2 separate regions of the Homo sapiens genome follow, and region 2 is linked to region 1. Evidence: fine-mapped expression QTL. Tissue or cell type: whole blood. Region 1 holds a variant in brackets; the other region holds the start of a gene. All regions are shown on one strand. Distances are between the middles of the regions. Region 1 overlaps MLLT3 (MLLT3 super elongation complex subunit). Region 2 holds the start of FOCAD (focadhesin).

The links. PIP is the estimated chance that this variant, and not a neighbour inherited with it, causes the effect.
Region 2: FOCAD starts here. The variant in region 1 is fine-mapped to the expression of FOCAD in whole blood (TOPMed, PIP above 0.99).

Annotation. Positions count from the first base shown.
Region 1 is chr9:20,605,382-20,607,881 of GRCh38, forward strand. All of the region lies in intron 2 of MLLT3 (MLLT3 super elongation complex subunit), which reads right to left. Among named protein-coding and RNA genes, the nearest start is that of MLLT3, 16 kb to the right of the region's middle. The variant C/T (reference allele first, on the strand shown) is at 1,033.
Region 2 is chr9:20,682,554-20,685,538 of GRCh38, forward strand. FOCAD (focadhesin) reads left to right here and starts at 1,706. Exons shown (of 44, transcript NM_001375567.1): 1 at 1,706-1,740. It overlaps FOCAD-AS1 (FOCAD antisense RNA 1), which reads right to left and starts at 2,197. Exons shown (of 2, transcript NR_121601.1): 1 at 2,015-2,197; 2 at 749-988. RefSeq lists a silencer at 1,309-2,008 and an enhancer at 1,408-2,148.

The DNA.
Region 1 (2,500 bases):
ATATTTATTTATTTATAAATCAAGTGTCTGAAGAATGTGAATAACGGAAACAAAGTAATTTAAATAAGTGACCCAACAAAGTTATGCTTATTAGTCTAGTTAATAACCACGGGTTCATACTAGAAAGAAGCTCCAAAATAATTTCAAACTAAGTTATGTGGGAATAGATATGACACAACATTCCCCATTTCAATATTTATGATGCATATGTAACTATATTGTCTTACTCAAGTAATTCGCCTAAAGAACAATTTTAATCCAGTATTTAACATAATTCCAATCATGTTTACTTCCACAAAGGTTTGGGCCAGAACAATTTTAGTCAGATTTTAAGCTAGTATAACATTTATACTATATGCCATAGGTAAGAGATACTAATTGATTATAAATATATCAAACATACTTTCTGATTATGAGTCCTATATCATCATTTTATACCATCTTAAGTAGAAGAAATCTCACTTCAACTATTAAGCATTTGAAGACAATTACTAAGTGTTGGTTTTGTAAAGGAGTACAAATTACTTAACATTTAATAATTAAAGTATGTGCACGAATGGATATTCCTAAACTGACACACTTATGAATGGCTTACTGGTTTTAAAAAGTAACTCCCAAATGCTGGGTTAATATGTTTCACTTTAGGGACTTAAACCATACTTCTTCAAATAAAATTAAATAAATTAGTTTGCAAGTAATTAATGACGAGAATTCAATAACGTAAAACTATCCCTGCGTATTCTCTATGGCTGGGAAATTTAGCTGGTTATGTTCATATAATACACTTAGTGGGTCTTGGAGCCCACTGCCTGTAAAATCTCCCATGGAGATTCAAGACCACCCATTGAAAATAGAACATTATTGCCTCCAGCAAGAAGCTGGTACATAGGACTGGTTATTCAAGTCTTTTAAATACTATTTTATTGAGGGATTGCAGGAGGTGGGGGAGGGGTGAAGGCGGATTCATGAGTGGATGGGGGAGGAAAACTCAGAAAAAAACAGTAATTTCTAAAGCAGAGGTTCCTGCCGTAC[C/T]CCCTTCACCCACCCGTACTTTTAAAACAGCTACATAAACAAAGTAATAAGTGCTCAATTTCAGAGAGAATTACATTATACTCCATTTGAACAGGCTACAAAGTACTTTTATTTGAAAAGCTGCTTGTGCTCTGTTATAAACAATTTTACTCTGCACCAATTTCAGACAAGAGAAGATGGCTAGGGAGTGTGGGAGGTGGAGTTAGGAAAAATTCACTCAGTGTCTTTCAATGCCTTAAACAGTTGATCCAATAAAGATCCTTTAGAGAAAACTTTAAGTCTATTTTTTTTCTCCAAGTAAGCAAATCATACAGGAGGGCTTTTCTTTTCTAGGGTACTGCACCCTGTCTCTTTAAATTCCAGGCCTGCCCCATTTCCCACGCATTCAATGAAAGCCCCACGTTTGCTGGCCTCCAGCCCACAATGTCAAGTAGTTCTCTTGCTATTGAATTTCAAGATTATTCTTTTGGATCATTTGCCCTTTAGTTTTAAGCACACCAAAGCAAAAATAATGTCTTTCTACAATAACATAAAGAAAACTCAGAGGTCTTTACAAGTCTACAAGTAGAGAACACCTTGTCCTCTGGTTCCTCTTTCACTGCAAAATATGCTCCCACTCCATATGCTCCAAATAAGGGCCATTTGTACACTATCGTCATCTACCATAGTTTTGTCTGTCCTATAACAAAATTTTATGAGTATTTTTATTTAATTTGGTGCCAATTTGGAATCTCTTTGCAATACTCAAACCAGGTCTTCATATTGCTCAAACTCTCCACTCTTCAACTTGGTGTCTGGGGTATTTGGTTATAACAAGTTTTAAAACAATTACTTAATTTTAAAACTATTATTTTATTTTTGCAGTTAAGACATCTATATAAATTAACTTACTAATAAAAGCAGCAAATAAACATTGCCATCTGTACTCATTGTGCCAAAGAGTATATTTTCCTCATTCTTGTATACACCTTAATCCTGAAGAAGGGATTCCAGGCCATTATCAATCACATTTAGAATTCTCTCAAAAGGAATAGACATAGTTAAGCAGAAATTTGTCAGCAGAACTAAATTAAGTTCATGGAATATAATCTTATTCCAAATGCTGGCAAATAGAATTTGAAGTTGCAATTTTATTCAAGCAGCTAATAAGAAATACCCAGATCATAAACATCATTGTTTATATTTCACAAACATTCTAAGGTAGAGTTAATCTATTTGTATTTTATGGATTTTGTAAAATCATCTACTACTAAAGGGAAAATGCCCTTATTTTTATTTGACATATAGCTTTGCTATGCATTAGTGCACAGTACACTTTTAAAGTTTAATGTCAAAATGCAAATGTGTTTTCTCACGGACTATAAAATCATGGACTTAATTAGATAAATTTTAGATTGCAGAGAGACCCTTGAGACAACTAAAATTAACCTCCTCATTTTGCGGAAATCATTTTTAGTTATGCTTAAGG
Region 2 (2,985 bases), 77 kb after region 1:
ACAGAGTTATGTGTTTAATTATAATTTTGACTAATGAGCCTCAAGAAATATAGGAATAGAAGAAAAAATATTAAAATAGTCCTAAAAGAAATACTGGTGCATTTGGAAGACTGAAAGAGAGTATCATCAAAGTCCATAAAAAGGGAATTATAAGCCTTATAAAACTCCTTTGAAGCAAAGGATAACAGAGGTTGAATAACTTTAAGTAGGTTCAATATTGATTGATTGAATGATTGATTGTGACAGTCTCACTCCATCAGAGGCTGGAGTGCAGTGGCGCCACCTCGGCTCACTGCAACCTCCGCCTCCCGGGTTCAAGCGATTCTCCTGCCTCAGCCTCCTGAGTAGAGTAGCCGTGACTGCAGGCGCGCAACCCCACGCCGGGCTAATTTTTGTATGTTTTTTTTAGTAGAGATGGGGTTTCACCACGTTGCCTAGGCTGGTCTTGAACTCCGCCCTCCTCGGCCTCCCAAAGTGCTGGGATTACAGGTGTGAGCCCCCCCACCTGGCCCCAAGATTAATTTAGATAAATTCTTAGAGGGTGAATGCATAGTTGGTTATTGGGAAAACTGTTAACGGTCTGTGATACATAATTACTTTTCTGAGGTGATGGGGAACCAAATTCTTCCTACAAATGAGAAACAGAACTTCTTGTCTACACATTAAAATGACTTTGGAAACTTAGAAAAATATCAATGTCAAGATCTGGCAGCAGACCTTTTTCAACCAAGTGATGAGGCCCAGGCACTTGTTTTTTTATTTTTATTTTTTCCTAAGGGTGCCCCAGGGTTTAGAAACAACTAAGTCAGATATTTTTAGAGTAATTTGTCTTAACTCTTTCATCTTGCGTAAAATTTCCATTCTGTCATCCACAACCGGAATTCCACTCCGTCATACCAGTCTCTCCTCGTTTTTTTCTGCTGGCTCTTTTCAGCGTGTTTCATCGTGGCTGCTGTCTGTCTGTTACAGCCTTCTCACGTGGGAGCCCCTGCCCCGCCCCACGAGAAAATACATGTTTATCATTCAGTAAGTATTGCGCAAAATCGTAACAGAATAATTACTCGCGCCAATTCCCCCCAGATTAGATCAGCAGAAACACTTGGGCTAGAACTACCTCAGGACTATCTAACAAGTGGATATACCACAGTGGCGTGGAGAGCTGCAGTGTTATGTGTTGGCCAAATGAAGTAAAGACACCAAGTAGCTATTAGGCGAAGAACGAAGCGTCTTCGCGGCAAGTCGGCTGTCTGCTTTAAATTTTCTGAATCCTTAATGTTATCAGTATTATTTATTTCCCCCGAGAAACAAAATCTCCAAATACCAAGAAGCTGTTCTGTATTGCCAAAAGCTGCATAGGGGCAGGCTGCCAACAGGACTACCCGGGCACGCTGCAGTGGCATCTCTAGGCAGTTTCCTTTAATCTGATTTTCCTTGGGCTAACTCCTCACTGCGGTGCTGCTCCACAGCCAGCCCCCGCGCGCAGCCCTCCCCGCACCAGCTCGGCTGCAGAGCGCGGGTCCGCCGCCCACGCCGCCTTTCAACCGCAGTGCGCGGCCCGGGCCTTAGACGCGCGTGCGCGCGAGCCGGGGAGGGCGGGCCCCAGCCGGAGGAGGCGGAACAGGGCCTCGCGATATGCAGCCCATTGGCTCTCTCCTGCAGTCCCCGCCCCCGGGCGTTCGAGGCGGCGGGGCGGGCCACGTCAGGCAGCCGGCGCTGGGCTGAGCTTGTGGCAGAAGGGAGGTAAGCCGTGCGGGGCGGCGGGCTGCCACCGCTGCACCCCTGCTCGGGAGCCGCCGGGTCGCGCCGCCTGCGGCCCGGTCGGCTTGCATGGAGGGCGGCTGAGGCCCTGCGGGGCTGGGGCTGAGCTGGGAGACGGGGCAGTGGAGCATGTGGCGGCAGGGCCGCGTCGCGGCGAGGGGCAGCCGGGAGGGGGCTTTTTGCCCTCGTCCGGTCCTGCTGGGGCTCTCAGCTTCTGGAGGACTAGGCCTTCTGAGGTTACGGAGCTCCGAGATACCTGGGCAGGGCTGGCTGTGGTGACTGCGGTGGGACTTAGTGGGATCTCGACTCGGAAGCCGGTCGGCGCGATCCTTGCATACTTAGCTGCAGCAGGTTGCAGTCGTCCCACTCTCCTTCGACCGGTTCCCTAGTTGGGGGCAGAGCAGGAGATTCTGGCCGCGTCCTGCCTGGCCTGGGGTGACTGTCTCCTTCTCATTCCCGGTGACTCACTCAGATCATGTCCACTTATAATGCAAAGGCTTATGGGTGAGCAGGGCCTGTTTTCAGTCTCCTAGTTCTCTGGCTCCGTCCGCACTTGCGGCAATTACTTGAAGAAAGAGTATGTTAGATGTATGTTTTGAAATTTTCGCAGCAGCTAACGCGTGGAGACGTGCAGTTATGTTGCATTTACCCTTCATGAGTTTTAGTTTCAGCTGTGGCGTCCTGATATCTCAGTGTGGTTCCTGAATTTGGAGCTTTTGAAATGAATGAAATCCTGCCAATTTCATGCAGTCATTCATTCATACATTCCAAACTTTTTTGATGGATGCCTTAATGGTCAGCCTCATACCAGGTATTAAAATCGGCATTTCCTGCGTTTTATTCCAGTTTATATGTTAGTTTTATTGTCTAGATTTGAGTTGGAAATTTTTTTTTTTTTTGTTATTTTCAGGTTCTAGTATCCCTGAAACCATCGTGGCTCTGAGGGTGTAATCCTGATAACTGTATCAGTAATGACTCCAGGTTTCAGTGGCCTATCTGTAAGAAGAGGAATGGGATTAGTATAATTTTGAGATTTTCCAGGAGAGGAGGGTAGATGGCATGTTTCCTGAACTGTGTTAACAGGAAGTAACTATTTTAAAAACACAGGATGCATTTTATGATTATGTTTTACTGTGTCAACGAACATTGTATCTGTCCACATTCACTTTTTGACTACCAAGCAAGTGCATGTTTACAATTTTGATTCACATCCAATTCCTGCGTAGA